Homo sapiens: one gene and its partners. The protein of the gene in region 6 interacts with the protein of the main gene of each other region in a pairwise test. Each region holds a gene or a part of one and is shown on either strand. Other genes may lie near its edges. The genes, in order: PTN, EXOC1, TRIM37, SPAG5, TBC1D4, CDK5RAP2 and CLIP4.

Evidence for each region.
Region 1: the proteins of CDK5RAP2 (region 6) and PTN interact in a two-hybrid assay, tested with the Homo sapiens proteins (one large-scale study listed by BioGRID and IntAct).
Region 2: the proteins of CDK5RAP2 (region 6) and EXOC1 interact in a two-hybrid assay, tested with the Homo sapiens proteins (one large-scale study listed by IntAct).
Region 3: the proteins of CDK5RAP2 (region 6) and TRIM37 interact in a two-hybrid assay, tested with the Homo sapiens proteins (one large-scale study listed by BioGRID and IntAct).
Region 4: the proteins of CDK5RAP2 (region 6) and SPAG5 interact in binary tests that used the Homo sapiens proteins (3 or more experiments, as listed by UniProt).
Region 5: the proteins of CDK5RAP2 (region 6) and TBC1D4 interact in a two-hybrid assay, tested with the Homo sapiens proteins (one large-scale study listed by IntAct).
Region 7: the proteins of CDK5RAP2 (region 6) and CLIP4 interact in a two-hybrid assay, tested with the Homo sapiens proteins (one large-scale study listed by BioGRID and IntAct).

Annotation. Positions count from the first base shown.
Region 1 is NC_000007.14:137,228,734-137,232,233, reverse strand, and holds part of PTN (pleiotrophin isoform 1 precursor), read left to right. Parts: intron 1-3,500.
Region 2 is NC_000004.12:55,895,148-55,898,647, reverse strand, and holds part of EXOC1 (exocyst complex component 1), read right to left. Parts: intron 1,932-3,500; coding exon 1,748-1,931; intron 1-1,747.
Region 3 is NC_000017.11:59,096,881-59,100,380, forward strand, and holds part of TRIM37 (E3 ubiquitin-protein ligase TRIM37), read right to left. Parts: intron 1-3,500. UniProt on the Homo sapiens protein: E3 ubiquitin-protein ligase required to prevent centriole reduplication. Probably acts by ubiquitinating positive regulators of centriole reduplication.
Region 4 is NC_000017.11:28,592,526-28,596,025, forward strand, and holds part of SPAG5 (sperm-associated antigen 5), read right to left. Parts: intron 542-3,500; coding exon 1-541. UniProt on the Homo sapiens protein: Essential component of the mitotic spindle required for normal chromosome segregation and progression into anaphase. Required for chromosome alignment, normal timing of sister chromatid segregation, and maintenance of spindle pole architecture.
Region 5 is NC_000013.11:75,479,370-75,483,523, forward strand, and holds the start of TBC1D4 (TBC1 domain family member 4), read right to left. Parts: upstream 2,801-4,154; 5' UTR 2,399-2,800; coding exon 1,901-2,398; intron 1-1,900.
Region 6 is NC_000009.12:120,440,668-120,444,167, forward strand, and holds part of CDK5RAP2 (CDK5 regulatory subunit-associated protein 2), read right to left. Parts: intron 3,076-3,500; coding exon 2,953-3,075; intron 1-2,952. UniProt on the Homo sapiens protein: Potential regulator of CDK5 activity via its interaction with CDK5R1. Negative regulator of centriole disengagement (licensing) which maintains centriole engagement and cohesion. Involved in regulation of mitotic spindle orientation.
Region 7 is NC_000002.12:29,118,415-29,121,914, reverse strand, and holds part of CLIP4 (CAP-Gly domain-containing linker protein 4), read right to left. Parts: intron 542-3,500; 5' UTR 527-541; coding exon 394-526; intron 1-393.

The DNA of each region.
Region 1 (3,500 bases), on a different chromosome or scaffold from region 6:
TCACATGTTGACAATGGCTCATTCTCTGTTTATATCCATTTCTGCTTTGCAGCCTCAATCCAGGCAGGGACAAGGGACATGTGGCCCGGGGTGTTATTTGATGTGTGGTGTATGTGTACTTCCTTCTCTTGATTTGGCTCTGTTCAATGTGAACTAAAGTGCCCTACTGTTCACATCAGGGTAGGAATCCTATTGGCTCTCAGAACCTTCTAGAGTAGCCGCTATATGACTTCAATAAAAAAGCACTTGGCTTTAACTAATTATAGCCCTGCTCCAGGCTAATTTGTGACCCACATCTCATAGTAAACATTTCTCTCTAACCTTGAAAGGCGACTAAACTGGGACAGTTTTACCCACAGAGTTTAATCAGGTCTCTATTCTAAAGACAAAGTTTTAAGAAACCTGGATAAATTTCATATACGTATGTTTGTAAGTTTTCTTCTTCATAAAATATTTGTCTTTAAAGATAGACTGAAATTTGACAAGATTCTAATTGGATTTACACTCCTTACTTTCCTTGAGAAATACTCTTTTCTATATAGTAATGGGTTGAACTATTTCCCATTCAAGTATTCATTTATCCACTCCGCATGCAACAAGTATTTCATGAATGCTTGTTATATCTCAGGCACAGAATATACAGTTGCAACATACAGATAGGGTCTCTATTGTCATAGGAAAGGAAAAACACATACCAAATAATTAGAGACAAAATTAATAGTTCAATTCTAGTTTTGGAAAAATCAATGGGAGGCACAATGAGAGTGTCTGTGCACGGAATCTGCTTATCTGAGAGCTCTTGGAGGGCTTCCCTGAGAAAATGCAGTTGAGGCTAAGATTTTAAGGATGACTAGGTGCTGACTGTGCAAATTGGGGTAGTAGGAGAAGGAACACTCAGGCCAAGAGGAAATAATATGAAAAGGATAAGATGGAAAGAAGCAAAGAAAAGTCAAAGAACCGTCATAAGGAAGATGGGTGAGACATATTATCACCATGTTATGGATCCATTTATTTTCACTAAAGCTTTACTAATCAGCTTTTACACACAAGGCCCTGTGCCATGGGTTGGAGGTACAACAGAGAGTAGAAACTGCACCCTCTCGCAGCTTGTATTTTGGTGGCAGTTACAATGCTAGAGATAGGTGCTCTAACAAGAGCAGGAAAGAGAAACAACTTCTAACTCACACTGCGAGGTCAGCAAACTAGAAGTGATGTCAATGCTGGTACCTGAAGGATGGGAGGCATTAATGAGACATGTCGTAGTGGAAGTGTGGGGTTGATGAAATGAAGAGTGAATTTGAAGGCCAGAGACTAGAGAGAAAAACAGACAAAGAGAAAAGATGTATTTGGGGAACTAAAATAAGCATAAGTATGAAGATGGAAGTAAAGAGGGGCAATGTGAATGTTTCAGTTTCTTCATCTATTACGTAAGGGCGTTGGACCACGTTCTTTCTAGGTCATAGATTTTGTGATACTATTTTAAACCCATCATGTATACTAGGTAAAGATTGAGAGGTTGTTAATAAGTTTTTGAGGCCACAGAGATAAGCAGTGACAAAGCTCATTTAGTCTTTCAGTTGAATGTACATAAAAGTCACAAAAAACTGCTTTCGATTGGAAGCAATATTACTGACCTGATTTTTTTTCACAAAAATTTGAACACTTTGTTATGTAAAAAACTAAACTGACCTTATTGCAAATATGAATTCTTCCCTCCTTCCACTACTTTTTACTGAAGACTCTTTATTTTTCTCTTTAGATTGAGCCCAGAGTAGACTCAAGTTCTGCAGGGTGTCCGGACAGTACCATGATTACTTGCCACTTGTGTCAGAAGAATAAGTTGATTGACATTGTACAGATTTAATAAGCAAATTGTTGATTTCCTGGTATTTAGCAAGTTGTCAATTAAGGAATAAGACACCAATGTCAGGTTCAGGGTTACCTAAGAATGTGCTCTTGCCTTTACCAAGAAGAATTTGGTGACAGATTCCTATTCCCAAAGTGTTCTTTGAAATGGACAACCTTACATTAACAGATCAAATAGTGTCCAATGTTCAGAATAATTTTAAGTTTTATGAAACTTTTATACAAAAACCTGGTTAGTATGTCATCTGCTCAGACTTATGTATGAAATAGGAACATGTTAGCCAAAATATGAAAATTGCTACTTAGATATCCACTCTACTGGAGACCTAGAAGATAACAAGTTCCTGAGGGTTTTCCAGGAAGGGACATGAGGAAACTGAGAGAGGGAAAACCAGAGTTAGGTCTCAGTTGAAATCCTACATTGTTCTCTGAAGATACCATCCTAATATACAGCTGTTGCCTAAAATGTTGACCAAAAATTGGGAATTATTACATTTTCAGACACTGAATAATTTTTCGGAAATTACACATAATGTCTCCTTTGATCTAAAATGTATCTTTCACTTGGAAATTCTGGTCATTACACCTCTCATAGGGTGAAAGAAAGATATTTGAGAAAACAAACAAAAATAGAGAGCGTGAAAAGTTAAATTTCTTTAGTATAGAAATGGGGCAAACTTGGGAAGTCATGAATGGAATGAATACAATTATGGACAACAATTTAGCCTGGGTTTAGAAACTGCTGACCCACTTGCATATAGTGTACCCTTGAAGTTTGAGTAAAGGAAGATTAGGACAATTACATTGAACAGAAATACTACTAGTGTGTAATGGACTTTGGAACCTACTTGAAGAGGTCATGAAGATAGTATATAGAAATGGAAAAGTTTCCAGCTCTACTTAAGTATGAGCTGAGAAATATACAATATTTCTAGTTGGCATCATATCATATCTTCTGTCTTCATAAGTCTTATGGTCCTCTTGGACACAGGCTGTATGCTCCAGTGAACAATGACCTCATCCCTGTTGGTCATTGTTTTTGTCCCAGTGACCCTATGTTGCTTAGCACATTCATTGACCTGCTCAATCAATATGCCTTGATAATGATTAAGGATTTTAATTATACAGGGTAATGATCTCTTGTTCTTGCTCTATTATCACCCTAATGATAAATGCTAACCTTAATTGAGCACATGCTATTGTATCATGTTCTGTTCTCAGTAGATTTTATAGAACAGGTTTAATTTGGATATAAACCGTATGCTTACTATCATATGCTATGGTACTTTTCATATGCCTATTTAAAGATGAGTAATCTAAGAAACAAATACATTAAGTAACTTTCTCAGTGTCTCACAGTAACTTAATGATGTGGCCAGGATTTAAACTTCAGCAGTCTGACTCCAGAGCCTGTACTTAACCAGTATATTTCTGCCACTACTATGGACCAAATTGGAGAAGTGGCTCAGAAATATTTAGCAATATCCCCTCACTTGCTAACCCAGTGATTCTGACCATTTTTGTCTTTGGAGCCAAATTAGATGTGTTCTATTCTACATTGCATTCTCCTGTTAGGAAAAGAGAAGTGGAAAGATGGTTGAATGGAAAAGAATGGAGTCTTTTGATTGAAATCC
Region 2 (3,500 bases), on a different chromosome or scaffold from region 6:
GACAGGGAATTTAAAAGTTTGGAAGAATAAAAATTTAACATTATCTCTGTACAACAAGATTAAAAATGATCTTTACTTTCTTCTTGATTTGAAAATTCTATTCGCTGATTTTTGGGGATAAATAGTTATTTATGTTTCAGGTCTTGTACTGGCTAGCACTTCAATAACAATGCTAAATAATAAAGGATCTAACAATACTTCTGCTTTAAATTCATTTCAGAGGGAATATCTCTACTGTTGCAGTTAAGTATCATGTAACCTTTAGGCCTGAGATAGATTTTTTATCCAATTAAAGGAATATCTGTCTGTTCTTAAGTTTTATAAGTTTTAGTTTATAAAGATTTATAAAGAACGAATAATGAATTCATTCATTCATTTATTATTTATTTTTAAGACAGGGTCTGGCTTTGTCATCCAGGCTAGAGTGCAGTAGCATGAACAAGGCTCACTGCAGCCTTGACCTCCTGAGCTCAAATGATTCTCCTGCCTCAGCCTCCTGTGTAGCTGAAACTCAGGGACACACCACCACGTCTGGCTAATTTTTTAAATTTTTTTTGTACAGACAAGGCCTCACTATGATGCCCAGGCTGGTCTTGAACTCCTGGGCTCAAGCGATCCCCCAACTGGTCCTTCCAAAGTGCTGCGATTACAGGTGTGGGCCACTGTGCCTAGCCACATTACTTTAGAATCAGATAAAGCAAAGCTACTTTGAATTTTAAAAGAAAAAATCAAGGCTGGACACGGTGGCTCATGCCTGTAATCCCAGCACTTTGGGAGGCCAAGGCGGGCAGATCACTTGAGGTCAAGAGTTTGAGACAAGTCTGGCCAACATGGTGAAACCCTGTCTCTATTAAAAATACAAAAATTAGCCAGGCGTGATGATGCCTGCCTATAATCCCAGCTACTTAGGAGGCTGAGGCAGCAGAATTGCTTGAACTCGGGAGGTGAAGGTTGCAGCGAGCCGAGATTATGCCACCGCACTCCAACCTGGGCAACAATTGGTGAGATGATTCCATTTTCTATCAATTTTTTAGCTTTTACAATTCCTGAATATATGCAATCAGATCATTTATTTCAGATGAAATGACATGTCCAGACTTTTCTGTAACTTAATTGTGGGATCTGACACAGGAAGAAAGCGAATTACAGTATTTCAGCACTAATTTCTCTTGTATTTTAGTACTAATTTCCTTGTATAGTAGATATGAAAAACTGAGTCCTAAATAAGTGAATTGATTTGCTTAAGGTTACACACACATCACAGCCCATCATCTCTAGAAGACCACTTGTTAAAATGCAAATGTAATCTGGAAGGTCATGTTTTTGTGTTTAAAAAATGATTTTCTACAAAAAATTAGCAGGGCATGGTAGGGTGCACCTGTAGTCCCAGCTACTTGGGAGGGTGAGGTAGGAGGATCTTTTGAGCCTGGGAGGTGGAGGTTGCAGTGAGCCAAGATCATGCCACCGCACTCCAGCCTGGGCGACAGAGTGAGGCCCATCTTAAAAAAAAAAAAAAAAGATTTTCAATTTTGCATAGTCATAAGCCCACATAAACCCTAAAATGTAAGTGGTTCATAATGAATACAAATAGGTTTTATTTTCCAAATTCAAGAAATCTTTAATGTTAGAAAACCTAAAAAAGATTATAAGATATACAAAATAATGAACCTATCTGCTCCCGATTTCTTAGTTACCAGAAATAAAAACAATAGCTATAACAATTCTTTAGAACATAACAAAAGCTTACCATTAACAAATACTCCTCTGATAAGTTTGGTGTATGCTTTATCCAGGTCTCCACGACGCTCAGCATTTTTGAAGATTGATTCTGCAAGTCCAGCAAATTCTTCAAATTCAGCAACAAATGGAAGAATTCCAACTTTACTCTTTTTTGAGATCTTTACTTCTTCCATTTGCCTTATTTGGTTACTCTAAAGTTAGGCAGAGAGCAAGGGAGATAAATAACCAAGCAACTTTAAAACTACATATAATCATAACAAAATATATAGATGGAGATATAGATATATACATAGATATCATAGAGGCAGGATATTATGTGGTACCTAGAACACTTTGGATGCTTACTAATTGAAGATGAATCAAAACAAGGATAACTAAGAAAAACTAATTCTATAGATAATAAAACCATTTTACAGTAAGTTTAAGAAAATCAAAATAATACAGATTATTTAAAACCATCTATAAGCTGGGGACGGTGGCTCATGCCTGTAATCCCAGCACTTTGGGAGGCCAAGGTGGGTGGATCGCTTGAGGCCAAGAGTTCAAGACCAGCCTGGCCATTTTCGTCTCTACAAAAAATACAAAAAAAAATTAGCTGGGTGGGGTCGTGCATGCCTGTAATCCCAGCTACTTGGGAGGCTGAGGAATGAGAATTGCTTGAACCTGGGAGGCAGAGGTTGCAGTGAGCCAAGATTGCGCCACTGCACTCCAGCCTGGGTGACAGAGCAAGACTGTCTCAAAAAATAAAATGAAACAAAACAAAATACAATCAAGGCCGTGAACTTCAAGTCTCTGTACAAAGTAAAAACAGTCAACACACATTTCTACCATTTATGAAAGATGAGTACAAGGCAATTACTGATTTTAGGTTACAGGAGAGAAGATTCCAGAGCACCTATAGGATCCCTCCGGGTAACTTCTGGTTGGTGGCCACGTGGTCAAGTTTGAGAACCACAGTCATTTCCAATTTTCGTCAGTCTAAAATTTCTGTCTGGATAGACAAACTCTCTATTTTCAGAGTACAGAAACAAAGAGGGAGGATAGGCATTTCCATATGGATTTGCATTATTTAATTTTCCATATATTTATTAGTCACTTAGCCTTAGTTCCACAAACTGCTTGTGCATTATATGACAAAATGCGAAAGAAATGTTTCATGCAGACAGAATCTTAGGTTCAAAACGATCCACGGATTCAATTATGGTTCTATGATTCTGAAGGGATCTAAATCTACTCAGTAGGAATGATTACACTGCCAAATACTTTTGTATTATTTCAGCTTCTACCTAACATTTCATTGTGTTGAGATTTGGGGAGTATAACTCAAAAACCATATGACACATGGATTAGAAAAATAATTATCTCTAGGCTTCTGACATTAGTATAAGAAAACCCTAAGAGTATAGTCAGTTATTTCATATTATCTGTACTAATGTTCTACTTCATCAGTATTGGTAACTGTGAGGTGAAAAACAGATGCAGTAGAAAAGGTAGTGGTAAGATTGCAGGTACTAGAACCAGACTTTCTGGGTTTGAATACAAGATCCATATTTTTTAACTGTGGACCTGGGGAAAGTAACTTCACCTCTCAAACAATCTACCTTATTGAGGGGCTGGGTTTAAGATTAGATGACATAATGTGTGCAAAGTGCCCAGACTTGTGCCTGGTACACAGTAAGCACTCATTTATAAATGCTGTCTATTGATCTTATTGACCAGTGTTCATAAATGAGAGATAAGATCTTATCAAAAATAAGACA
Region 3 (3,500 bases), on a different chromosome or scaffold from region 6:
AAAATCCCAATAAAACTAATTCAACAGACTATTTAAAAAATTATACACTGTGGCCAAGTGGGATTTATTCCTAGAATAGAAAGATGATTCAACTACAAAAATCATTCAATGTAATAAACCACTTCATGGAAAACCCCCACTATGATCATCTCAATTGATGCAGAAAAGGCATCTGACAAAATCCAATATCCTTTCATGATAAAAATACTCAATAGAAATAGAAGGGAACTTCCTCAACTTGATAAAGGCCATATATAAAAACTCATAAAAATCATAGTCAACGATTCAAAGGCTAAAAACTCTTCCCCTTAAGATCAGGAAAAATTCCCCTTAAGATCAGGAAAAAGACAAGGATGCCAGCTTTTACCATTTCTATTTGACATAATACAGGTACTAAAAATTCCAGCCAGAGTACTTAGGCAAGATAAAGAAATAAAAAGTATCCTAATTAAAAAAGAAGTGAAATTATCTTTTTGCAGATGACATGATCTTATCTGTAAAAATCCCTAAAGAGTCCACAAAATATTGTTAAAGCTAATAAACACAACAGTTACAGGAGACAAACACACAAAAAACACTGGCATTTCTATAAGCTTGCAATGAACAATCTAAAAACGAAATTAAGAAAATAACACATTTGCAACAGCATCAAAAGGAATAAAATGCTTAGGGAAAAAAAAAACCAAGAATTTGAAAGACATACATGGAGGCTGAGTGTGGTGGCTCACACCTATAATCCCAGCATTGGGAGGCCAAGACAAGAGGGTCTCTTGAACCCAGGAAGTTGAGGCTGCAGTGAGCCATGATCGCATCACTGCACTCCAGCCTGGGTGACAGTGAGATCCTGTCTCAAAACAATAAAAAACAAAAAGAAAGACTTATACGTGCAAAACTACAATACACTGCTCAAAGAAGTTAAAGAAGTCCTAAATAAATGGAAAGACACCCATGTTCAAGGATCATAAGATTTAATATTGTTAAGACAGCAATATTACTCAAAGGCATGTACAGAATCAATGTAATCCCTACTAAAACTCCAATGGTACTTTTTATATTGGTAGAAAACTGCATTTAAAATTCACATGGAATCTCAAGGGATGCCAAATAGTCAAAACTATCTTGAAAAAGTTGGAGGACTCACACTTCCTAATTTCAAAACTTACTACAAAGCTACAGTAATCAAAACAGTGTGGTACTACCATAAGAACAGAAATAGAGACTAATAGAACAGAATAGAGAGGTAGAAATAAACAAAAATATTTTATGATTCCATTTATATGATGTACTTAGAATAGTCAATGTAAAGACAGAAGGTAGAATAGTGGTTAACAGGGGCTAGGGGGAAGAGAATAATGAGAATTTATTGTTTATCAAGTACAGAGTTTCAGTTTGGGATGATGAAAAAGTACTAAAGGTGGATAGTGGTGATGGCTGCACAACAATGTGAATGTACTTAATGCCGCTAAACAGTACACTTAAAAATACAGTTAAAATTGCAAATTTGGCTGGGCCAAGTGGCTCACATCTGTAATCCTAGCACTTGGGAGGCCAAGGCAGGCAGATCACTTGAGCCCAGGAGTTTGAGGCCAGCTTTGGCAACAAAGTAAAACCCTGTCTCTACAAAAAATAAAAAAATTAGCCAGGCACGATGGCACACACTTGTGGTCCCAGCTACTCAAGAGTGTGAAGCAGGCCAACTGCTTGAGCCCAAGAGATTGAGGCTGCAGTGAGCCATGATTGTGTCACTGTGCTCCAACGTGGGCAACAGAGTGAGACACTGTCTCATTTAAAAAAAAAAAAAAAAAAAGGCTAATTTTACATTAGGTATATTTTACCACAATTAAAAAAAAATTAACAGAATACCATATGACCCAGCAATTTCACTTCTAGATATATATTCAAAAGAAATGAAAGCAGGAACTCAAACAGATAATTGTTAACAACAGAACTATTAACAATATCCAATATCCAAAAAGTGAAAACAACCCAAGTGTCCATCAAGAGATAAAAATGGATAAATAGGCTAGGCGCGGTGGCTCAACGCCTGTAATCCCAGCACTTTGGGAGGCCAAGGAGGGTGGATCACCAGGTCAAGAGATCGACACCATCCTGGCCAACATGGTGAAACCCCATCTCTACTAAAAATACAAAAATTAGCTGGGTGTACTGGCGCACACCTGTAGTCCCAGCTACTCGGGAGGCTGAGGCAGCAGACTCGCTTGAACCTCGGAGGTGGAGGGTGTGGTGAGCCGAGATCGCACGATTGCACTCCAGCCTGGCGACAGAGCGAGGCTCTGTCTCAAAAAACAAAAAAACTTAAGAAAAAGGATAAACAAAAAGTGGTATATAGCCATGTGTCACATAAAGATGTTTCGGTAAATGATGGACCGCATATACTACAGTAGTCTCGTAAGATTAGAATGGAGCTGCCCTACATAGGTGTACCATTTTTTATCTTTTATACTGTATTTTTAATATACCTTTTCTATGTTTACTTATGTTTATTTTCTTTTTTCTTTTTTTTTAATGGGTACAGACTTTCTGTTTGGGGTGATGAAAGATTTTGGAAATAGTGATATGGTTGTATAACATTATGAATGTAATTAAAGACACCGAACTGTACCCTTAAATATGGGTAAAATGGAAAATTTTGTTATATTTATTTTAGCACAAAATGGGGGGCACTGAACAGACCCCTTACCAAAGACAACATATGGATGGTAAATAACTCCTGGAAAAGATGCTAACATCATTACTCAACAGAGAAACGCTAACTAAAACAAGGAGATACCTGTAAGAATGGCTACACGTCCCTGAGAATGGCTAAAATTCACAAAACCGAACACACCAACTGTTAGCATTAATGTGGAGGAATTGGAACTCTCATAAACTTCTGGTGAGAATGTAAAATTATAAAACTATTTCCTTTTTTTTCTTTTTGAGACAGAGTTTCGCTCTTGTTGCCCAGGCTGGAGTGCAATGGTGCGATCTCGGCTCACCACAACCTCCGCCTTCTGGATTCAAGTGATTCTCCTGCCTCAGGCTCCCAAGGAGCTGGGATTACAGACATGTACCACCAGGCCTGGCTAATTTTGTATTTTTGGTAGAGACAGAGTTCTCCATGTTGGTCAAGCTGGTCTCGAACTCCCGAATTCAGGTGATCCATCCACTTCGGCCTCCCAATCCTTTTTTTAATTTAACCTTCATCCCTCTCCTCCTCTCCCTCTTTTGAAGTCCCCAGTGTCTAGCATTTCCCCCTTTATGTCCATGTATGCTCATTGTTTAGCTCCCAGATACAAGTATTTTAGAAAATAGCTTGGCAATTTTCAAAATGTTAAACACACATCTACCACATAATCTCTATCCGTTCCATTACTAATTATTTACCCAAGAGAAAAGAAAGCTTCTTGTACACGAATGTTCGCAGCAATTTTCACTGTAATAGCAAAAACTGTAAACATGCCATATGCCCATCAACAGGTGAATGCATAAACAAATTG
Region 4 (3,500 bases), on a different chromosome or scaffold from region 6:
AGGCGTTACTTTCAGAAGGTACTAAGTCCTCACGCACAGCCTCAGTTCTACTGCTCAGGCTTTCCTTGGAGCAATGTAGTTGTTCAGAACAGGGATTTGGTGGAGACTCCTCTAAGAGATGGGACGGAGATTCCTGAAAGATAGGTTTCTCAGATACAGCAGCAACTTCTGAAAACCTGTCTCCCATGCAGGGTGCCACCTCCTCTCTCACCAGATCGTCTGTTCTCAAAGGTCCATTTAAAGATATGCTGTTTGTCTCTGCCATGGTATCTAAACGGGCCTCAAATATCATGTCTTGTTGCTGCCCCAGTGGAGATGGTACAAGGACGATGGTTTTAACCATATAATTGCCCAGTGGGTCTACTGCTTCCTCAGACGTTTTAGGAGTAGAGCTAATTTGGGGAATTGGATCTAGAGGCTGCTCATCTGATTCATGCTGACAAGTTTCTAGCCACTTTGAGGAATGACTGAAATGTTCTGAAGATAAGTCTGTCCTCTTGTTATTTACAAAATCCACTGGAGATGAGTTGTTGCTGCCTTCCTGCCAAAGGAAACAAAAGTAGTTGTCTAAGGCAGTCAATTCAGTTCCCGACATACAATTACAGGTGCAAGATAGTGCACTCAAAAAAGAAAAGAATTCTTACTACCTCTGCTTAGGTAAGAACTTGGCTAATCTTTGTTGCTCATATAGAGACCCAATAGTAGGGAAAGAAAAGCTGCTAAGCCATTTTGGGTCCTTCCAAGTGAACCAGCCTACATTATAAACAGGCTGAGAATATAGATCCATATCGTGGGCAGATGGTAGCTTGAAAGTGACCCCACTCATCTCCATTCTGAACTCTAACGCACTTCTAGATGAACAGATAGGAGGGGTCCATAGGGTGTGAGTGAAGGCTTAAGCTCTGTCAGAATCTAGAGTTGGTACAAGTTCTTCTCCCTCTCGGCTGGGCGCAGTGGCTCACGCCTGTAATCTCAGCATTTGGGAGGCCACAAGCAGGTGGATCGCTTGAGTTCAAACCTCATCTCTACTAAAAATACAAACATTAGCCGGGCATGGTGGTGCTGATGTGTGCCTGTAGTCCCAGCTACTCAGGAAGCTGAGGTGGGAGGATCACTGAAGCTCAGGGGGCAGAGGTTGCAGTGAGCCAAAATCGTGCCACTGCACTCCAGCCTGGGTGACAGAGCAAAACCCTGTCTCAAAAAAAAATAAATAAATAAATAAAAAAGGTAGACCCTAACAAAACAGAGCTGCTGGAAGACACAGATGATAATCTGAACAACAACAAAAAAAACGAGTACTTAAGCTTTAACTACAACATAAATACACACACAAAGACATTTTAGAAATAATAAATATTATTTTAAATAAAAAATGTCAGTAAAATGAATTGAAAGAGTAAATTATTAGAGTTGAAACTAGAATTACTGGCCTGGACAAGTGGAAGAAATATCTTAAAGCAAAGATAAAAATATAAAGAAATGTAAATCTGAAGAAAAAGCTAAGAGAATTAGAAGATAAACCCAGGATACCTAACAGTTAAATAAAAGAAATTCCAGAAGAGAACATATATACATGAGGCGCTGATTAACAAATATTAGAAGAAAACTACCCTAATGAAAGACCTGAGTTTGCACATTAAAATGGCTCACCAGTTTCTAAGCAGGACTGACTAGAAAAGATACATGCTAGACACATAATTATAAAATTTCTGTGCTACAATGAAGAAAAAACTATTCTGGAAGCTTTAGATAGAAAGTCCAATTATTTATTAAAAAAATAATCAAACAGACCGGGCGCAGTGGCTCACGCCTGTAATCCCAGCACTTTGGGAGGCTGAGGCGGGCGGATCACGAGGTCAGGAGATCGAGACCATCCTGGCTAACACGATGAAACCCCGTCTCTACTAAAAATACAAAAAATTAGCTGGCTGTGGTGGCGGGCACCTGTAGTCCCAGCTATTTGGGAGGCTGAGGCAGGAGAATGGCGTGAACCCGGGAGGTGGAGCTTGCAGTGAGCCAAGATCGTGACACTGCACTCCAGCCTGGGCAACAGAGCGAGACTCCGTCTCAAAAAATAATAATAATAATAATCAAACATATGAAATTTCTCATTTATATTAGTGGATGAAACAAAACCAAGGTTAGGTTAAAAAGGGCTTCTGATATTCTGGTACTGTCCTACTTACTGACCTGGGTATTAGTTACATGGATGTGTACTTTATAGTAATTTGTTATGCTGTTATGTTTTATTGTAATTTCATGTATCTTACTTTAATTTTGAAATTATTAAAAGGTATGATGGCTCACACCTGTAGTCCCAGCTATTCAGGAGGCTGAGGTGGGAGGACTGCTAGAGCTCAGGAGTTCAAGGTTGCAATAAGCCAAGATCACACCACTGCACTCTAGCCTGGGTAACAGAGCAAGACCCTGTCTCAAAAAAAAAAATAAAAAAGACAGGGCATGGTGGCTTACACCTGTAATCCCAGCACTTTGGGAGGCTGAGGCGGTCAGATCACAAGGTCAGGAGTTCGAGTGCAGCTGGGCCAACATGGTGAAACCCCATCTCTACTCAAAATACAAAAATTAGCTGGGCATGGTGGCGGGTGCCTGTAGTCCCAGCTACTCGGGAGGCTGAGGCAGGAGAATCGCTTGAATCTGGGAAGCAGAGGTTGCAGTGAGCCAAGATCGCGGCACTGCACTCCAATCTGGGCGATACAACAAGACTCCTTCTCAAAAAAAAAAAAAAAAAGACAATATAAAGATGAGTGTGTGTGTGTGTGTGTGCATATATACAAAATAGACACACATAAAGAGATGTATGAAAGAACTGTCAAATATGACATTTATCTAAGATACCAGAAATATTTCTTCCTTATACATTTATATATTCAAATGCTTCAAACAATTAATATCTATTAATAATCAAAAATTTACAAAACAGGCCAGGTGCAGTGGCCCACGCCTGTAATCCCAGCACTTTGGGAGGCCAAGGAGGGTGGATCACTTGAGGTCAAGAGTTTGAGACCAGCCTGGCCAATGTGGTGAAACCCCGCCTCTACTAAAAATACAAAAAATTAGCCAGGCATGGTGGCACGCGCCTGTAATCCCAGCTACTGGGGAGGCTGAAGCAGGAGAATTGCTTGAACCCGGGAAGCAGAGGTTGCAGTGAGCCGAGATCACACCACTGCACTCTAGCCTGGATGAAGGAGTGAGATCCTGTCTCAAAAAAAAAAAATTAGGCCGGGCGCGGTGGCTCACGCCCGTAATCCCAGCACTTTGGGAGGCTGAGGCAGGCAGATCACGAGGTCAGGAGTTCAAGACCAGCCTGACCCCCAACATGGTGAAACCCTGTCTCTACTAAAAATACAAAAATTACCTGGGCGTAGTGATACATGCCTGTAATCCCAGCTACTCAGGAGGCTGAGGCAAGAGAATTGCATGAACCTGGGAGGCGGAGGTTGCAGTGACCCTAGATGGCACCACTGCACTCCAGCCTGGGT
Region 5 (4,154 bases), on a different chromosome or scaffold from region 6:
CCACTGCTCCCACTGGACTAAAAGGGGGAAGTGAGCCTAAACATATTAATATTTATATAGTTCAGCCTCTAACGCTTAAATATATAATGGAGGAAAATAAAGGAATGTTTATAATTGACTTCCTACCAATGAGACCAAGAGGAACTCAACAGCAGCTGTTGAGAACTAAAGGTGCCAGGACCATCAATGAGATTAGCAACAATGTGTCATGCATCAGATGTCGCTGGGGGGAAATAACTTTAACAGAAACCCCCGAGAGTCATGAAAAGTTCCTTAAAGTCCTGGAAAAATGCAACTGGCTCCTCTTTACCACCAGAACCAGAAAAATGTAATACAATAAAATGTAATAGCTTTCAGAAACTTTCCAATTTTAACATATGTGAAAGCTAAAAATAAGTTTTGAACAAATGTTCACAAAATGAAATTCATTAAATCGTGGTTAGGATCTTGAAATAATTTTAGTACGATATTTTGCCATAAACATAACAGTTATGCCATAAACATAACTTCACATTAGGAGTTCTGATTGTTGGGTGCCTGTAATGCCAGCTACTGGGGAGGCTGAGGCACGAGAATCACTTGAACCCGGAAGGTGGAGGTTGCAGTGAGCCGAGATCGCACCACTGCGCTCCAGCCTGGGCGACAGAGCAAGACTCCGTCTCAAAAAAAAAAAACCTATTTTTCAAAGTAACTGATGAAATCTAAGACAATGAACTATTATTTTCTTCAATTCAACTACAAGCCTTTTGTGAAAACTGTTGAACTAAGTCTTTCAATTACAGACAGAAGAATTGTGAAATAAAAAAAATTAAAGCCATATTTATAGGATGTTTTTCTCATCTGACTACGATTAATTTCCCAGTTACCAAAAGAAAGCCACATGGTGCAACCTGAGACTTTATTTATATTTAGACAACACTATTTTTCCAAAGAACCTAAAGTACTGTGCAAACAGTAAATAACCATTTTTAAAACAGCATTTTGGAAGCTTTTGATATGGCGGGGAGAAAACTCATTACAAATTAAAGGGGGAAAACTCTGTTTTCAAAGACACAATCACTGCATAGTCAAGTTCTCCTCTCCCTGTTCCATAAGGACCATATCTGTTTTTAAGGAAGTAAAGTTTACTGTTTGGTAATTAGATTTAGAAGACTCTGGAAAAAAAATATTAAAAACAAAAGTGAAAAAAACATTTAAAAAATGATATTAGAAACCTGTTCTACTACACTGCCTCCAATAAGTGTGTTTAAAAACCGCAAAAAAAGGGCTTCTTTCCATTCAATATCCAAATGTAGAATCCTTCTTTGCAGACAATCTGACGATGTCTAGTAACTTTTCCCTAAGCCCCGCTCGGAAATTGCCTCCCAGACCGGAGACCTGCAGGTGCTGCTGCGAAGATGACGCGACCAGCCAAACCGGTTAAGGATTTGACTGCGATTGAGAACTAGTGAGGACCTCTAGGAACCCAACCTTCTGCGTTCATACACGCGCTCGCGCGCACACGCACGCACACACACACACACACACACACACACACGGCAAGCAAGCCATCTCCGGTCACACCCCAGACACCGCCGTCCTCCCGGGACGGGCGCTCCTCCACGCGTGCTCCTTGGACGCGCCAGCTCCCCCTCCATCCCGGGACCGTTGTCCTTTTCCCTCCGGGTCCCTGCTGTAGCCGGCCGGCCGCTCCCGCCGCTCGCCCAGCCCCCGAACGCCTTCTCTCCCACTCCCAAGGTCCAGGGAAGGGGCCAGCCGGCGCTTGAGCGCGCCACGTGGAGCGCGCGCGCCTGCAGCCAAACCTCAGTCGGTCCTTAAAGTGGGGTCCCCGCCCCTCCCGCCCTGCTCCCCGATCCCCCAAGGCCGAGCCCGCCCCCGCGCCTCCGAGCCCCTGTCTTGCCTGGCTGGGGTCTGTGGCGCGGAAAACGTGGCAGGCCATCTGCGACTCGGGGTCGTCGGGCTGCGCCTTGATCAGGTAGGCAAAGTAGGTGAGGTCGTGGCTGTTGTGGATGAAGCGCGAGATATGCTGCGCCTTGTGCTCGAAGATGAATACCGCCGGGTTGGGCTGCGTGGCCGACGGACTAGTGCCCCCCGAGGCCCCAGCGCCCGGCGCGGGGACGCAACGCAGGAAGGGCGCGCTGAGCACCAGGATCACCTCTCGGGCCGCCGGCGCCCCGCAGCCGCCCGCCTCGGGCTTCTGGCTGCGCCTGCGGATCTCGGCCATGAGCCAGGGCAGCATAGGCAGCGTGGTCCTGTGGTCCAGGCACGACCCCCCAACGTACCACAGCCGGAACCGCTTATCGCTTGGCTTCCCGGGGCCGGGCTGAGCTGAGACGCCCGGCTCGGGCTCCAGGGGGTGCGGGAACGGCTCATCCTGAATGCAGCTGGGCGGCTCCATAACTCTCGCCTCACCAGGGCACCGCGGAGGCCGGCCGGGCGCACCGCGCCCCCCACTCCCGCGCAGAAGGCGCCGCCGAAACTGTGCCAACTGCCGCACCGGGCTCCCGCGCCTGCCTGGGAGCGGCGCGACCCCGAACTCCGCGCTTCAGCAGCCCTGCCCCATGCAGCACTTCCACGGGCGCGGCTCGGAGGCTCCGGCGGCGGGCACCGAGGCAAGCGCCCGGCAGGCGAGGGCGGGTTAAATGGGCATCCTCCTCCTTGGGCTGGCGCCTCGGGCAGGACCTCCCCTTCCTCCGTCGCGGGTTTGCAGGGTCAGAGGACCACGCCGAGGGTCCCCGCGGCCGCCGGCTCCAGCGCTGCAGCCCCGCTGCGGCCGCCGCGCTCGCCTGGGGCAGACACTGGGTGGCTGGGCGGGGAATGGGGCTGTGGGCGGGAGGGGGTGACTTGGGGCGGAGCTGACTCCTACCAGGGTGACCGGCTGTCACCTGGAAGGTCGGGGCTGCAGGGCTGCGGCGCGGTCAGTCCTCAGGAAAGGCTCCGGCAACTACTCCAGTGGAAAATAACAAAAACAAAACGTGGCCTCGCGGGGGCCGCTCCTCCTCCCGCCGCAGCTGCAGCCCAGCTCGCTGCTCCTCCTCCTGCCGTTCCCGTCCCTCCCTCGCTCCTTCCTTCCTTCCTTCCAGGCTGCTTCTTTAATCGGGCTGCTACTCCGCCTCCCGTCCGGCGGGCGGAGAGCGTCGCCTGCAAAAGCTTATCCGTGAAGCCGCCTCTCCGCCTCTTCGCCTCTTCCTTCGACCCCCGCCCTTGGGGCTGCAGCTCAGAGCCTGGCGCGGGCACTGCCCGGACCCACTTGGCCTCTCTTGAGTCGCCGCGATCTCCGTCTCCTCCCGGGCGTCTCTGCTGCCCCCTAGAGAGGGGGCCACTCGCAGTGGAGAACTGGGATTTTTTTTTAACAGTATTTGCTTGGTTTCAGTTCCTTCTAAAGCCTACACATTAATTTCTGAATTATCTTTCCTAATAATCTCAAAAAACGCTCGTGTTTTCAATCACAATATTATAAATTCCAGTTCCAAATTTCACTTTAAAACATAATATCGACAGCTTGAATCTTCCTAGTTATTAAAGCAGCCAACTTCTTAAAATATGGAAAAGTTATGTTTTATTTATGTTATATCCCCAGTTGAGAGCTAATGTAGAGATTTCTTGTTCTTTTATATATATGTGGTAATACATATTTCCAAAGAACTAAAAAAAAGTTTGGAATAATTTGATCATTGTAATTTTAAGACAGGTAGACAAGTATTCTCCCTTTTTACTCATACCGAATGATAATTAAGAATTGGGTAAGAAGTAAAGACAAAATAAATAAGAAAGACACAGAAGTTCCTGACTTTCTCCTAAGTGCTTACAAGAAGAATGAAAACTCGGGTTTCTTGGTTTTTAGTTTAATGAGTTCTCACTTTTTATAAAGCCCTGGGACCACTTTTTCCCTTCTATTTATTTAAGATCAATATAACCAACTGCCATTGTTCTTATGCTGAATTTCTGGTTGCACTCTGATGGCTCTCTTATTAATAGGTATCTAAGTTCCAAGATGGAGACATTACTAATTGATTAGGTTAAGTCATTTGGTTGAACCACTTAAAAAACCTTTGTTCAAAAAGACCCATGTCTTCAAAGAAGCAATGAAAAGTTCTTGGAAGGTAGACTGAGACCTTCTAGAACCTTCCCAGAAACTCTGTTACACAGATCCC
Region 6 (3,500 bases):
CTGAATGTAGCTCTCCCTCACCAGACTGCACGTTTCTTCACAGCAGAGATGTGGCCTTTCATTTTCACATTCTCGGCGTCTAGTACAGAACCTAACCCAGACCAGAAGTCAGTGCCAGTGTGAGAAATATTGAGAGATTCTGTGAAGCAACAGTAAAGAGTGGTAATTCTGAATATCCACAACACGTGACAGTCTTCTCATTTCCATGTCTAATGGCTTCCAGGAGATGCCCTGACATCCCCTTTAGTGAGGTGTTTCACTCACTCACAACACTGCCAGGAAATATTTCCTTATAGCTAGTAATAGCTAAACCCTTAGAGATGCAGTCAAACTTGTTTCAGAAGTGGAGTAGTACAGCAGAAAGAATATGAAGTTTGAAGGCCACACAGCCTGAGGCAAGTGACTTTACTATCCAAGAGCCTCAGTTTCCCCTGTGTCTAAAATGTAGAAAGAGATGTCTCATATGGTTGTAGTGCAGCTTCTGTTCTTAACCACTGTGCCACACTGCTGGCTGCCCAGGGAAAGTTCCGTTCAATATAGAGAGCTGTCTGAATACTTAAGGGGCAGCGGAATGTAGTAGAAAAACCTGTCTTTGAAATTCAACAGACATGGTTTCAAACTCTGGCTCTGTCACATAGGCAAGTTACTTGACCTCTCTGAGCTTTAGTAGCTTTATCTGTAAAATGGAAAGAACATCACTGAAAAGTTGTGTGTGTGTGTTTGTTTTTAGGGATTATATGGAACAAAATCTGCAAAAAGAAAAAAAAGGCTAGCACAGTGTCTGGCACATAGTAGTGAAGGAATCCAAGTAACACAAACATCCTCTAACCATTCCAAGATAGAAGGAGATGCCCTTCACCGGAGGCGTGCGTGCGAAGGCCAGCCTGGAAAAATGCTACAAAAGCAACAACGTGGGTTGGACTGGGTGACCTAGGAGATCTCTCAGAAAGAAATTCACACACAAATCCTCATCAGACTGCATGTCCCAATTTCTGGTTCTGCAATCTGCTCCTTGTGACTTGAGGTACACTCTTGTATCTGTTCATGATGCAAATACCATAAAGTATGGCATTTCATTTCAGAAAGCAGCTGCTACCTGACCTAAAGGAAGCATTCCTAATACAGTATTTTTATTATACACAATGTTATGATAATTACTCAATAAGAGCCTTGAGGGTGCAGACCGTGTCATCCATGTCTGTTTCTCCAGTATCTAGCACAGGGTCTGCGACAGAGAATGTACTCACCAAGTATTTCTGGCTGAACAAGAAAGAGAAAGAGGAACTGGGGAGGGAGATATCTCTCCATAAGGCTTTTTTTCCAGTGAATCACCCTCCAAGACAAGAAAATATCTTTGCTGTAATAACCTCATGATAATAGAATTTGGTCTGTACTTCATGGCAAGAAGCGTGTTCACTCATGGAAATAAAGATTAGTTCCCAGGACTTTCCTTAAGTAATTATGAGGCATCACTAGTACCCCCATTTTACAGAAGAGGAAGTTGAGGCTTAGGGAGCTTAAGAATTTGCTTAGGGTTCAGGGTAGGTAAGCAGTAGAGCCCCTCCTCAAAGCCTGGCAGTCTGCCTCTAACACTCTGAATGATGCTTCCCGAAGTAACACTCCTGCAATCCAATCTCCTGTACCGCGGTGCATGAGCAAAGAGAGAGAGAGTTCTTAACCCTCAATGTGAAGGCCAAGATGCCTGTAAAATCCTTTATTCACATCCCAAGTATCTGTCAAGGGCCTTGTGAAAAAGAAACAGCAATGAAGATGTCACACGCAGCACCCAGCCTCAGCTGCGCAACAATTAAAAGGTGGAAGTTCAGGCAGATGCAATTCACATACAAAGTTCTGGAAGCACATTCAGAAAAATGAAAGACATTCAGTAATGAAGGGAAGTACTGACAGGGAAAGGGAAGCTGTCGATTAGTTAAGAAGTCTGTATTAATAACTATCAAGAAGAAATCAAAAGATGTCCCCAAGACCATTTATGAATATTTGCATTATAAGAAATACTATAGTTCTACAACTTTCCACAATTCAGCTAAGGGGGACTTTATTGCCTGGTAGAGTAGCTTTCTCCTCAAAGCCCAGAACACGCAGAAGCATGTGACCATGTGTTCACTGCAGTGACTCTGGACCTTGCAAAAGTATACAACAGTGTATATACCACAACTCAGTATTTTTCCAGAGACTGGTGTCCCCATGGCCATCCCATGACAAATTTAGGATTCTTGAGGACAATTATTTCTAACAGAGTGAATTAGATCTGGATTAATAGTGATTTTTTTTAATGAAGGGGGAAAAATATCTAACATAAAAAGAATGTAGGCATTTGTTCATTCTGGTTGAATGAGAACATGAGTATTTGTTATATTATCTTTTGTGCTTATGTATGCTTCTAATACTTCATAATTTTAAAAAGAAAGGAATACAACTTGCCTCTGCCCTCACCCGTATCTCTGCACCTTTTCCACTGATCTGCCTGGCAAACCCCACAAACCCAGTCTCAGCCTCAGGCTCTCTTCTGACCCACTCCTCCTGGGCACACGGACCAACACCAAGCACACCTCAGCAACAGGCAGCCCCGCGCTGAATACTAACAGGCTGTTGGGATGATTGTCTCCTCCGAGCTGTGGGGTCCCTAAGAGCAGGCTGTGTCTTTTCATGTTGAACCACCAGAACCCAGCCCACTGCCTGGTAGAGAAGCATGCTGACACATGGACGGGTGGGTTCTGACATCCTACTGTACCTTGACTCTTCTCCTACTTACCAGCTGGGTGACCCTGGGTCAATTATTTCTTAAAACCTCAGCTTCCCATGTGTTAGACTGGAATGATAATAATGCCCTGAGAGGGCTGCTATGGGCTTAGTAATAATTTTTAGATAAAACATCCAAATGGTGCCTGGCACATGGAAGCTGTTCAATACACACAGGGGCTGAATTCTGACCAATCTCGTAGCTTCTTTGCTGATCACTGTCCATTTCCTTGTCTCTCCAGACAGAAGATGTGGTTTTAATTCCTTTCTGCTCTCCTGGGCTGTCCTGGTAGGCTGCTCCCACAGGGGGCTGAGCTACAGGCAATCACAAAGAGAAAGAAAAATAAATAAAACCGTAAGACCTGAAACTTAGCCAAGCAACTGAGAAGAACACAAAGATACAACAGGGAAAATAAAAACACTGGGGAGGCAAAATGCAATTTATAAGATAAAATTAATCTATCGAGCTGCCATAACAGGACATAAAAAGCATAAATATACTGCAGCTTGTCTGAAATGGTTTAAGTCCAGGCTCTCAAAAAGCTGAGTGAGAAAATGAATTCTATCAATTCGTGCCCATTTTTCCCAAGAAGAGAGAGGCCCTAGGGTCTCCTGGGCAACTGTTTGAGGTAGCACCTGGAGTTGAGGCACTCTGGTGTCTCAGCAAAAAATAAAAACAGTATTGAGTGCAAATGGCAAGCTAGGAGCCAGCATGGTGGCTCATGCCTATAATCCCAGCA
Region 7 (3,500 bases), on a different chromosome or scaffold from region 6:
CATTTCACATTCCAGGGAAGGGTCTCTTACCCTCTTTGCCTAAGTACATGGCTTTTTTAGCAAGTCAGTATATTTAACCAAAATAAATACATCAATAGCAGAAGAATGCTAGATATCTAAGCACCATTGCTTTCTAAAAATAAAGTCCTCTAAATCCATCATGATGCTTAAAATGAACATTTTAACATAATATAAATGCTGACAGCAGAAATAAAGCATTTAGCTTAAGAAGCAGAAAAAGCAATAAGCAATTGTATTTTTGAAAAAGGAAAACTTTAGCAATTTTATGAAAACCATAAAAATGGTTCTAAGAAAGACTATGAGTGCAAAAAAGGCGTAACAGAGAAGTCAAGTTACCAGTTCACAGAAAATAAGCACAGCTACTTCACATACCACAGTCTGAAGGCATTGGTGCTGCAGAAATGGAAAAGATAACTGGGGTATCAGAAGCAGAAAATATAAATGGGTATCTTCCAAACAAAGGATTTCCTTCTAATGGAAAATCTGGAAGGTCCTCTATGGTCATCTTCTAGAAAGCCACCTATAATAAGAAAGAAAAAAAAAGTGTTTCTACTTTATTTGTATGCAACTTAGAATGACTGCCTTCAATAACTGCCTAAAAGTTATTTGACGTCAAATCTGCTGACATTTTCAGTAAGGATCTTTTATGAAAGGGAAAAAATTCCTTTTGGCAAAACTGTTGTTAAAAGGCATACATTGCTTCACACCACCTCTTATACCAGTCGGTAGCACATGTAATCTCTCTAGACAAAGCTCAAAAGGAATATAAAATAGGTGAAAACACTTTAAATGCTGAGCTAATCTAAATGGGTGAAATCCTCCTACTCATGTAACAAACAAGGGCGTATTAACCCTTGTAGATGGATCTTTAACTTCCCATAACACTGGCACAAGTTACATCATTTGTCATCCAATAGCTCATGCCATGTGCTCATCACATGAAGATAATCTACCTTAAAATGTTTCCATTATTTTCTATCCCAGAAAACTTTACTGAAAATTAATCATATCCCTCTTACAAATCTAAGAGTTTACTAAGATTGTTCAACTTAACAAGGTCCGAGGTATGTGAGTTCTATCCTGGCCAAAGATGGAAGCCATGCCTTTTAAAGCACATGGCTTATATTACCTCTTTTTCCCAGAAAACATGAGTGCTTAGAATAAATTTGCTCTAAATTAGACTTTGTACTACACCCTAGCCTACATCTCAGAAATGATGTAGAAAGCAGAGAAACTGCTAGTAAAACCAAACTTATGAAGCTAAAAGCCTTCCAGTTTCTTTTGTATCCGATCTTTACTATCTGAAGTATCATGAATTCCTGTTTTTAAAATGTAAGCAAAACATTATAAAACTAAATGAAAAATGAGTTTAGATTATTTCAGTAGAAAGCACAGAATAAAAATAGGTAATCAATGGCTTGATCTGGTAGTAGACAACACCATACTAGCTACTACTTAATGTGTGCTCTGTTCTACTTAACCAACCCTATATCTAACTCAATTATCCTTACCATCAGTTCCCCACTACAATAAAACAGTCATTTCATTGAGCTCACTGTTGTCTTCCTAACTTGATTCATGTTTTCTTAATACTGGCAGGAACTGGTAAAAAGTAGGAGGCTTTCTTTTTCCTCAAAAATCGTATGCTTATATGGATATAGATGTTATATATTAGGTAACCTAATCCAGTTGTTACTATTTTAAGGTATTCACATTTTCTTGGATGCTAAAATTACTTACCACCAAATACTTAGAAGCATTTTGACATTAACCTTGCCACATAAATAGGAAAATGACAAGTTCATGGAATTAGTGTTATAGAGCAGCGGTGATCTTCCTCAAATACTATCAATTCCAAACAGTAATGAGTATTTATTAAGGAACCACTATATACAAGACACTATTCTAGATGTTTCAGCAAATACAAAAATGAGTTAACAGATGGTCCATGCTTCTTAGGTAGTTTACAATCTATTAAGGTGAATAAAATACCACTAATAACTATAGATTATGAGGCAGAATGGGATCTGCTCCATCACATAAGTACCAGGAACATTTGCAGTTGGAGCTTCTAAGAATCATAAATGGTGAAGAAGGTATCATCTGTGATGAGTCTTGAATGATGAATAGGTATCAATATAAAAGGGGATCCCATTAAAAGAACAGTAGGCTGGAACTTGGGATATGACTAGGAAAACAGTCAGAGGTGAGGCTGTAAGGGCTTTTTAGGGCTGTACTGAGGAGCAAATACCTCATCAAAGACCAAACCACTTACTTTCATGAGCACTGGGAAACTACTGATTTTTTTAAAGAGAGTAACATGATTAAAGCTGTTTTAGGAAAATTAATCTGACTATAATCACGGTTTGGGACTCAGACATGTTTTTATACTCTTAATTCTTCAGCAAAAAGATTCAGTGGATATCTGTCTGAGTCGGTTAAGAGGAGTCACCACATGACTTCCCTTTCAAAGGGTGGAGTCTCCCATTCAAAAAAAAAAATTTTAAGTGATCCCCAGAGCACCTTTCATTTCCTTGTAAACTGTTGAGATCCTCAAAGATACGAACTCTATCGTACACAACTAGCAGTCACCACAGGAGCTAGAATAGTGTGTTACACATATTTAACTAATATTCAAAGCTTAGATTCAAAGTGGAAAGAGGATTCATGCAATCAGATGTAACCAGCTTCATTCTTTTACATATTAGATACTTCAAGTCCAGAAGAAGCTACAATATTACCTGACCAATGCAGTGAACATTCTTTGTATTTTGTCTTTGTTGCGTTTTTCTCTAGTTACATTTCCTTATTTTCGTGAAAAACTTAACATTCTACCTTTTGTCCTCCCAAAGGAAACTATGTACCCCTATAAACTTCCTTATAGTCTCAGATTCATTTCCTAAAAGCAATTCCTGGATCTGAAGACCTACAACACCTGGACTCTTGGTCAAATGTCTAAGTATACTGATCTGAACTGAGTACACACTTTCATTCCAAATCCAACTATGGTTAACTGGTGATAACTGATTATAAAGTAAGCCTCAGGTTAAAAATATATATATATATATTGGCCCTGCCAGGCATGGTGGCTCACACCTGTAATCCCAGCACTTTCGGAGGCCATGGCAGGTGGATCACCCAAGGTCAGGCATTCGAGACCAGCCTGACCAACATGGCAAAACCCCATCTCTACTAAAAATACAAAAAATTCGCTGGGCATGGTGGAGGGCACCTGTAATCCCAGCTACTCAGGAGGCTGAGGCAGAAGAATCGCTTGAACCTGGGAGGCAGAGATTGCGGTAAGCCGAGATCCCGCCACTGCAGTCCAGCCTGGGCAAGAAGAGCGAAACTCCATCTCAAAAAAAAAAAAAAAAAATTGGCACTAATCAACTGTCTACAGAACAGGTGCCTCTGATACTAACAATAGCTAGAATCAAATTCCCCAAACTCTGATTTCTATAGGAATTTCACCCTACTCA